Linked DNA regions of Homo sapiens: regions 1 and 3 are each reported to be linked to region 2. Evidence: microRNA targets listed by miRTarBase, many of them from high-throughput screens and not tested one by one. Region 2 holds a microRNA gene; each other region holds the end of a gene's coding sequence.

Region 1 (3,251 bases), not on the chromosome of region 2:
ATGCTTCATTTTTCTGCACAGTGTACACGTTCCTTAATAAGCGAAGTGTGGGGTGATTTCTAAAAGGATTTAAATGGCCCTCATCAGCCACGTCCTGCTGAGCTTGCTGGGTAAGCCCTTTGAGGTACCTGATGTATTGCAGGGAGCAGGGAAAGGAAAAAGGATTTTTTTTCAGAAATGCCTGTAAAGTGAATGGAGACTAGACACCGTCCAGCTTCAAGAAGGCTCAGGACTTTCAACAAAGGGAGCATACCTGACCTGAGAGCTGTCCCCATCCTCTCTGGAAGCATAAAGAACAGTGAGCACTGGCTAATCCCATTGTCTCTGGTCCCCTGCAGGCAAACTGTCCTTGGAAGAATTCATCAGAGGTGCCAAGAGCGACCCCTCCATCGTCCGCCTGCTGCAGTGCGACCCCAGCAGTGCCAGTCAGTTCTGAGCGAGCGGCCCCTGGACAGTTGCAGAGAAACACAGGCTTGTCGTGCCGTTTAAGCTTTGCTTGCAAGAGTGGATGCCCCGCAATCGTTCCTGCTCTCCCGGGCCCCGGGCCTGGGGCATGCGTTGCACCTGCCCAGCCCGGTGGCTGCGCCTCCCTCCTCCACCTGACCAACGCGACATTCCTCCCCTCACGCCTGGCCCGGTCCCTTCCAGGGCAACTCCCAGGGATGTGGTGACATGCAGGGTTCAAGTGTTCTTGGTTCCAGGCACCTCCCGGCTCACGGGGAGCTCAGAGGTCCATGCCGAGGAGACCAGGCAGGACCTCCCGAGGCTGCGCCCCGGCCGGCCCATGCGTTTTGTGATCCCAAGTGACTCTGTGGGAAGGGTGGGGACGAGGCGTCGGGAGGGTATACAGGGAGCCCCTCCCGTGCATGGCTGCCCCCCCGTTCATTTTCTCCACCACAGCCGCTTGCACGTATAGATACTGTGGTCCCCTTTCTTTTAATATATAAATTATGTATGGTGAAGTGGAGTGTATTGTGTAGGTCCCGTATTTAATGCCTCTGACTGCCTTTGAAGCGCAGCCCTCTGTGGCCCGCAGCCCCCTGAGCCTGGCTGTTGTGTGGTATTTATGCTCTCTTTGTCTGCCTGTTTCTAAGGAAATGCATGTGTGCCCTGAGCCGTGATGATCCTCCCATCCGTGTTGTGAGCACAGGCATTTGTGTCTGGTCTGTCCTCCCTGTTGATTGGTCTGGCATTTCCGGTATTAAAATGATAAAATAAATGGCATTTTCTGAGTTTTGCGTCTGCCCGCGGGAGCCCCCATTCCTCAGGCCGTGGCCCCTGCACTCTCCAGGCAAGGCGGGTGTGCTGCGTGCCACCGCTGTTGGTAAATCCGGCCCCTCTTACGTCCCTCCAGCTGTCCCCGCGTTTATAAATCTTGCACAGCCTGTTCTTCAATATCTGCCTAATGCCAAGAAATACTCGTGGAAATAAACGATGACTGTTCTTGGCAGATCTGACGGTCAGGCTTCTGCCTCCCCCCAGCCCTTCCCTCTCCTTCTCCTTCCACGGTTTCAGGTCGTAGGAAAGCCACATTCCAAGAGAGGACGGGCATAGCCAAGGGTGCAGTCAGGCTGGACCCAGAGGTGGCAGGCCTGGTTCTCCATCCAGCCTTCGCCGCTGCCGTCAGTGCTTCTGGTCCCAGCAGCAGAAGGCCCAGCTGAAGAAGTGGGGGTTGGTTGGTCTCGCCTGCCAAGGGATCCAAAGGCAGCATCGCTGGGGATCCCCAGGCATCAGCTTGTCTTTTTTTTTTTCTTTTTTTAAGAGAGAGTGTCTCTCTATGTTGCCCAGGCTGGCCTCAACCTCCTGGGCTCCAGCAATCCTTTCGCATCAGCCTCCTGAGTAGCTGGGACCTCGGGTGAACAGCACTGCGCCTCCTAATCACAGTCAGCTTTTCACCTCAGGCTTGTCTTCCTGGGGTGCCTACAACTGCTGTTGTGGTTCTGGGCAGTACAGCTGACATGGGAGCATCAAGAGGCAGGGAGAGAAGCCTCTGTCCTCCCACTGAGGGACAGGAAAACCCTCCAGAATCTGCCCACCACCCCGTCCCCACCAGCCCCACATCTCATGGCTGAAACCATGGCCTGTGTTCACAAGATGACCATGTCATGGCCACGGCTGGCTTACGCTGGTCAAGATGGCCCTTGGCCAAGGTGGCATCTGCCTCCCCCAGAGGGCATAGGGTTGGGAAGGGGTGAGTGGAATGGAGGTTCTATTACCAGGACGGGCACTACGGCGTCTGCCCACCTGCCTGCTGCTGTCGGCTCCTCTGTGCCTCAGTGTCTTCACTGTAGGGGATGGGGGGAGCTGGGTGGCTCAAGGTCACATATGCAAAGCGCATGGCTTGGAACCTGCCTCCCAGCAGGCCTTCAGCAACAGCAGCTAATTTGTTGATTTTAGTCATTTTAATATTTTTTAAGACTCCATGTCTCTTTTAATAGAAATGGTGAGTCTGTTTGCCAAGTGCCTTCTGAGTCAATGGCACTGCTAGAGCTATTTCATAGTAAAACTCTCCATGCACCCAGAGCCACCAAGCCTTGATGGGGGAACCAGGTGGGGTGCGAGATGGAGGCCAGGTGCCCTGGGCAGATCTAGCTTGCTACAAAGAGGCAAGACGGTGCCTTTGGCAACACTGCCTCACCTGGAAGAACAGCCAGTGAACGGCTTGAATTTTATAAACATTTAACTGGGACTGGCAAAGGTTAAATCAAGAGTGCTTGTTGTGGGGAGGGCTCACTTATGATGGGGACAGAGTCCAACAGAAACAGATGGGAGTGACCACTACATTAGTCAGGGTTCTCCAGGAACAGAACTGATAGGAGACATGCATGGATGGGAGGGGTGGGTGGATGGATGGGTGGGTGGGTGGGTGGATGGATGGATGGATGGATGTATGGATGAGTGGGTGAGGGGATGGGTGGGTGAATGGATGGGTGGGTGGATGCATAGACAGGTGGATGCATGGATGGGTGGATGGATGGCTGGGTGGATGGGTTGGTGAATGGGTGGGTCGGTGGGTGGATCGATAGGTGGATGGGTGGGTCGATGGATGGGTCGGTGGGTAGATGGATGGATGGGAGTATGGGTGGATGGGTGGGTGGGTGGATGGGTCCCTAGGTGGATCGGTTGATGGATGAATGGGTGGCTGGATGGATGGATGGATGGGTGGATGGATGGTTGGGTGGGTGGGTGGATGGATGGATGGGTGGATGGGTGGGTGAATGGTTGGGTGGGTGGGTGGATGCATGCATGGG
Region 2 (3,202 bases):
CCATGGATCTCAATGCGCACCAGGGGGTCCACAATGGAGTGTGGCTTCTCGGCATTCAGCTTGGGCAGCTGCTGTGCAGTCAGCACCTGTGGGTGAGGGAGGGAGTGGCTGGGGCCCACGCCCACCTTGGCCATCCCCTCATGGGCCTCAAGCTCACACCACCCTCACTTCCAAATGTCCCCAGCCTCCCTTGCCTTCCTCCACCTCACAAAGAGCCTTTCTAGAACCAGTCTGACCCCACACTGGGGCCCGTTCCAGCCTGCTGACCTGGATGCTGAGAGTGGTTCTGGGAGGTCCTGGGTACTCGGGGTCAAAGGTCGAGTCAGGTTGCCGCAGGCAGGCAGGTTTTAGGACGTAGCCACACTGCCCATTGACTAGGAAGCGCCCGGCATTGAGGTCCATCTCGTAGCCTGGCGTCTGGAAGTTCAAGGCCACTGTGGACACAGCAGGGTCAGAGCAGGGGCTCTTAGCGGCCCTGTTCTCACTACTCAGTTTCAGGGGACTGCATTCCTCTCTACAAAGGGCCTGGGGTCCCACTGTCTGCTTAGTGCTGCTCTGCTCCCACCATGACTTTAGGGGAGGGGGTCATGGACCCAGCCCCCACTGTCACCTGTACTTCTGCCCTGGGATCCCTCAAGACTGGGGTGGGAGGTACTAAAAAAGCCCCCACCCTCAGGGCCAGGCTTGGGTCAGAGCCAGGGGTCTGAGGAAGCCTGGGGTTTCCATCCTTACCCCAAGGAGACGATACAGCCCTCCTTTGGTGGGGCTCAGCGTCCCCCAGAGCCCACCCTTGTCAGTGTTGACTTAGTGGGACTGCCAGGTGTGTGGGGGTTGTGTGTGTCCGGGGGACATGGGAGTGGAGATTTTAATTTCTACCATGATAAAAATGCGAGACCTGTACACTGTCAAGAACAAACGAGCCTGATTTGATTTTCCCACCTACATTGCTGGCAACTTTAAAAATAATCAACAAAATGCGTGTTTCCACCGTCTGGAAGGCTGTGTGGGCCCCTCACTGCTGAGGCCTCCCCCACACTGTGGCACCCCGCCTGCTCTCATTCCTGTGGCCCCCACTTACCCAGCTGACAGCCCGAGTTCCACATCTCCTGGGGACTGTAGTTGGCTGAGTTCATCCGCAGCCCCAGCGGGTACACGCGGGTCAGCTGGCGGGCATTGTGCCTGACAAAGCTGTTCCCTGGGGCAGAGTTGGGGTGAGACCGTGACAGACTCCGGGGGTCCCTCACCCAAAGCCCCGGCCTGTAACCTCCAGGGAACAGAGCCCAAGCCCGTCCCCAGGTCACCCTGCCCCCGCTCCTCACTCTCTTCTGACCTAGAGTGAGAGGGGAGCTCACTGAGGAGGCTGCAGGGACCCCCTCCAGCCACACAGCCTGGCCCTGCATCCCCAGCCCCCAATTCCCAGCTCCTGACAAAGTTCCAACCAAGTACACTGAATGCCCACGGCCCTCCAGCTCCACTGTGGTTCCTGGAATTCTTCTCCAGGCCAAGGCCCCAGGCCTTCAACAACCTGTTCCTCCTGTCTGGAAAGCGCTCTCCCCTCTTCACCTGGCTGCTTCCTAGTCCTCCAGGTGATGTGTCCTCTCAGCATCACCTGCCCCAGGAATTCCTCCCCAGTGTTGCAGCAGCTGCTGGGCTCCCCCAGCCCCCAGCCCAGCCTGACCCATCACCCTCTATGGCCGGCCCCACCACAGGGCTCTGAAGGCAGACAGCAGGCCGCCCTCAGCGTGCCACTCCCCTCCATCCACCCTGGCATGTGCGGGGCCCTCATTCCCTCAGCCCAGCCCCTCTTTGGGGTCCTCTTGACCTCTTTACTGTCCCCCAAAGCCCCCTCAACTCCTTTCCAGACTCCCTTCAGGAGGTCTCTCACCCTCTCGCCCCCAGACACCCAGTGCCCCAGCTCCTACCTGCCTCCCGAATGAGTTTCTTGGCTTTGCGCTCGCTGAGGGAGCTGACCTGGCAGGGTTGTGGGGCGTTGGGGGCAGGGTGCAGGGTCCGCAGGCGGGTGGCGTGGCAGTACACAGCCAGGGCCGACAGCTCCGGGGAGATCTGCTTGGCCTAGGAGACCAGGCTCAGCGGGGTTCAGCTGGCCCCCGCTTCCCACATCCGTCCTCCCACCTTCCCCCCCTTCCCCACCCCACCCATCCCAGCTCTCACCAGCCGCCTCTGCGCTGCAGCCTCCACCTCCTCTTCTTCCTCCTCGTCATCCTCCTCCTCCTCCTCCCGATCCGACAGAGCCCGGCCATCCTCGCTCCGAGCAGCGGGCAACTTCTTTCCCTTCACCAGGACCCGGCCCTTCAGCTGCTGTGGGGGCCAACGTGGAGGATGAAGGGTTAGGCCTTCTCGCCCCTGTGGCAGCCAGTCAGTCAGTTATTCAACCACCGCCTTGTGAGGGGCTGGCTAGGGGTGGGAGGCAGGAAAGGAGACACAGAGATGAGCGATGTTTCTAATAGGAAAGAGTGGAGAATGGCCCGGGAGGCCATCAGGAAGGGATGCTTAATAAGGTCCCTCAACATCAGAATATACACAGCAGCCACTACAATGCACGCGACAGCTCAGGACTGAAAGGAAAGGGACCCTCTTCAAAGAAGATCTTACGTGGAAGAAGTGAGGCTACAACCTGGAATCACATGTCCTTTTTTGGTACCATTTAAAAGAGAAGACAGTACACATATGTACACAGGTAATGTGTGTGGGGAAATTCTTGAAGGACATGCAAGAAAGTTAGAGATGGTTACTTCTTGTGAAAGAGGACAGGTCAGTGGAGGGAGGGGAGCACTGCTCATCGCGTCCCTTAGTACAGCTCAGTTTTCTTTTACCATACGGGTGTGATTTTCACAGTAATAACAAAAATCACATCTCACACACACACGAGGGTGAGTCAACCCTGCCTGCATGTTGGGGATTGGAAGTAGGAGGAGAGTTTTCTCAAGGAGCCCGACAGGATAAATGTCTGGAGAGAGCCGAGGACGCGCTCTGGTGTCTGGGGGAGAGCAGGAGGCCGCCTCAGGCCCGAGAGTTGGGGAAGTGGATAAGGCCACAGGAAGAGGCGGCTGAAGTTGAGCTGAATTCTAAGCAGGTGACGCTTGGCAAGTGTGGATGGCCGAGAAGGGACTTCCAGGTGGAGAAAGTGTCAAGCGGGGCCTTGCAGGTGGGAATGGCAGAGCCTGCAGGACTCTACGGGCAG
Region 3 (3,225 bases), not on the chromosome of region 2:
TAGTCATCCTTAGGAAGAAGGTTGTAGATATGTGGGCTTTTCTATTGCTAAATTATGACTTCTAAATGGTAGGATGAAGAGGCTGGAAAACTGGTGACGAGTAGAAAAATGAGTCAAGTGAGGAATTTTCAGAGCATATTGTGATGAAAATAAAAAAGATGACCTGGATAGCCTGAGCTTTTTATGCAAGCTGTAGCAAAGAGGGTATGAAGCTTAATCATATTAAATGGGGAGGTAAAAAATCCATTTTCACTGTAATTTATTTATTGAGACTTATCTTTTTGGTAGGTGTAGACATGAAGTAGGGGTCTTTGGCAGTGAGCTTTCTAGAAACACTTGGAAGTTTGTAGGCCCGCCCTTCACTCTTACCGATGGCCATGTTGGGGCTCAGAAGGGGTGGTCTGTTGAGCACACAAATCTCTGTGGATGGGTCCCCTTTAGAGTCCAGAATCTACTCCTCAACACCTCCCCTGCTCCCACCCTACTGCAAGAAACTACTGTTTCTCAACTGCTCTATCATAAAAGCCTCCTAACTGGTTTCCCTGCTTCCCTGGTTTTCCTCTACCACAGTCCATTCTCCACTCTGAAGCCAGACTGATAAATTGAATTATTTGATTTATTTGCTCAAAACTCACCAGTGACTATTACATTCACAGTAAAATCCAAAGTTTTCACCAGACCTATAAAACTTTTCACAATCTCTCTGACTTCCTCCCCATTCCCCGCTCCTTTTTGTCCATTTCAGCTACATCACCTCCTTGTTATTCTTAAAACATAGCAGGAATACTGCTACCTTGGGCCTTTTACTTTCAGACAGCCCCTGGATCTTCCTTCTCCCAGTGAATTGCATGTTCAGTTCTCGTAGTTACTTCTGACTTCTGCTCAAATGTCACCTTTTCAGAGAGGCCTTCCCTCATCACCCTATGTAGAATATCTTATTCTGATTCATTTTTCTTCACAGCACTTACCACTTAACATAACTTGTATCTCCACAAAAGAAAGTAAAGTCAATAAATAAAGGATCTTTGTTTTTTTCACTGCTATTTTTTTCAATGCCTAAAACAACATTGAATTATTATGGTAAAAGTGTTTTAAATTATTTAATCATGGAATCATTAAAACACAAATAATTGCATATCCTGCCATGGTGGGATACTCTAGGTGAGGCAGAAAGAGAAAAAGGTGGGGCATTGGCAACCATGGAAAATGTAAACTACAAACATAAGATAGATATACTGAAGGAGGTGATATTCTTGGAAGGTGCTGTGCCCCATGGAGGGCTGGATTTGTGGTGACTGGGATATACAGTGGAGATGGCAGCAGCTGCATCTCTGTGTGCTAAAGAGACAGTAGAGACAGCCCATCACCATCTTATAATGGTGGCAAAATCAACGAGCAGGAGGTTCCAATGATGATAACTATTCATCCGGACTTGGTTAATATGTGAATTCACCCTACTCTGGCCCTCATATTATTCCTGTTCCACTTTCAAACTTGAACAATTTGGGTTTGAGAAATTCAGGCAGTCTTTATGACTAAATATCTGGGCCTATCTATGTAAAATGTTTCCCTTTCTGTTTGAGCATGTTATGATTGTTTTCCCTACATATGGGTCTATTTATGTGTCTCTAGGTATTTGCATCTGTGTTTGCACATGGCTGTGTGTACTCATATGTGGACTCTATATGCCTGTATATGTGAATTTTTTACTATGTGAGCTTGTGTACATACACACACCTGTCCAAGGTGACATGCTCAAAATAATCAGTTTCATATACCATGCTCAAGTTTCATATACCATGCTCAAAATGCTCATGTTTTAGAGATAAAAACATTATTTTTATCTCTATATTAATATATGCATGTGGTTTGTGTGTTAATGTACATATAGTAGGTGAGACAAAAATCTCACACAGCTAGTTTTTTCTTTTTTTTTTTGCAAAAGAAGTAAAGCCAAACCTCAGATCGCAGCAAGTGAGTGTAGCCATTTTATTGACAGATGTTTCAGCCACGACCAATGATCTATTATTCAGTACAAGACACATTGGTTGATAACTCTTATTCCAGGACTTCTCCTGGCTGGAAGCATCAGGAAAGGTGCAAAAGGCAAATGAGATGGTCAGGTGGGTCAGCAGGCAGGTAGCAAGCAAACAAGTAGGCATGGTGGTTAGAATCTCTGGGATCTCTTGAGCTTGCGGATAGCAGCATTGGTGTCCCCTTCAGTAGCAATGAGTGCCTGTAGATTGGCATGGTGGTTCCCAAATCCCATGGCCTGGAGAGAATCCATCTGTTTGCTAAAACAAATCTCAGGAGCTTGCAGAGGGTGGGAAGGGTCCCCATCCGGGGATTGTAGCCTCTGCAGGACTGTTCCAGGCTTGTGGCAGCACTCAGGTCCCTTGGGCTCAGCTGTATCTGAAACATTCCAGGAACAGGGCACTGTGTCAGGATAGCTGCAGCTGGGGGCAGGAAGCCAACCCAGGCCCCATAGGTAGGGTGCAACCCAAGGCAGAAGAACAGGAGCCTCTGTGGCCAGCAGCTGGAGGGCCTGCTCAATCTGCAATATTGCTTGGAATGCTTTAGGGTTGCCTAAGCACTAAGCAGATCAGAAATCTGTGTCTGCTGCAGGAATGTGGGCAGCTGCTGCCTCCACTGTTCACTCAGCTGGGGCATACTTGTGAACAACATAATCTGAGCTGCCAGGTAGGGGTTGTTCATAAGCAACTGCATCATGCCTCCTGTGATCTGGGAGCTGCTCTGCTCATCTGACAGCTGGAGATCACCCTTTAATGTCTGTCTGGAGCTACTTAGAGAAACAGTGGCATCCTTGTATTCTTCTTGAAGCTGCTGGGTAAGCTCTATGCTAGGTAAGGCTGGTATCCAAGCTGGCTGCCGAGTGGCACAGATATGGCTCTGGCCCTTGGTGGAAATCATAGCAGTGTTGGCTTTGGAAGTGTGGTTGACCTTGTTAAGGGTGTCATTGGCTGAGGTGTTTGAAGAGAAACCACCAGAGCTATTATAGATGACTCGGGTTGCAGGATGCTGTGTGAGCTGGTCTTGTTGTTCCTGTGATGGTGGTGGAGGTGGGGGTGAAGACTGGACTTGTTCTAGCACTTGTCCTGCCAGGAGAGCTGTGAAAGGGTTTCCTCCAAAAGGATCTTGCATGCTGTTCAGCATTTGATCATTGATATCAGCATAGTTCTGACCCAGGGCATTATTCCCACCTGG

Evidence for each region. The annotated mature microRNA hsa-miR-6784-5p reads GCCGGGGCUUUGGGUGAGGG and lies in region 2 at 1,238-1,257, opposite strand. An mRNA with a match to its seed (bases 2 to 7 or 8) in the 3' UTR can be bound and repressed. Matches are read on the target gene's strand: a 7mer-m8 pairs with bases 2 to 8, a 7mer-A1 pairs with bases 2 to 7 and ends in A, and an 8mer does both.
Region 1: miRTarBase lists HPCAL1 as a target of hsa-miR-6784-5p. Seed matches in the 3' UTR shown: 7mer-m8 at 538-544 and 7mer-m8 at 771-777.
Region 3: miRTarBase lists UBQLNL as a target of hsa-miR-6784-5p. Seed matches in the 3' UTR shown: 7mer-A1 at 2,340-2,346.

The regions. Positions count from the first base shown.
Region 1 is chr2:10,426,386-10,429,636 of GRCh38, forward strand. It overlaps HPCAL1 (hippocalcin like 1), which reads left to right. Exons shown (of 5, transcript NM_002149.4): 5 at 339-1,219. The coding sequence ends at 436. Among named protein-coding and RNA genes, the nearest start is that of SNORA80B, 19 kb to the right of the region's middle.
Region 2 is chr17:45,113,172-45,116,373 of GRCh38, forward strand. MIR6784 (microRNA 6784) reads right to left here and starts at 1,262; the gene lies at 1,196-1,262. PLCD3 (phospholipase C delta 3) reads right to left here. Exons shown (of 15, transcript NM_133373.5): 9 at 2,173-2,319; 10 at 1,923-2,073; 11 at 1,079-1,195; 12 at 268-434; 13 at 1-86. RefSeq lists enhancers at 1-489, 1,356-2,221.
Region 3 is chr11:5,512,428-5,515,652 of GRCh38, forward strand. It overlaps UBQLNL (ubiquilin like), which reads right to left. Exons shown (of 1, transcript NM_145053.5): 1 at 1,966-3,225. The coding sequence ends at 2,587. Among named protein-coding and RNA genes, the nearest start is that of UBQLNL, 2.7 kb to the right of the region's middle.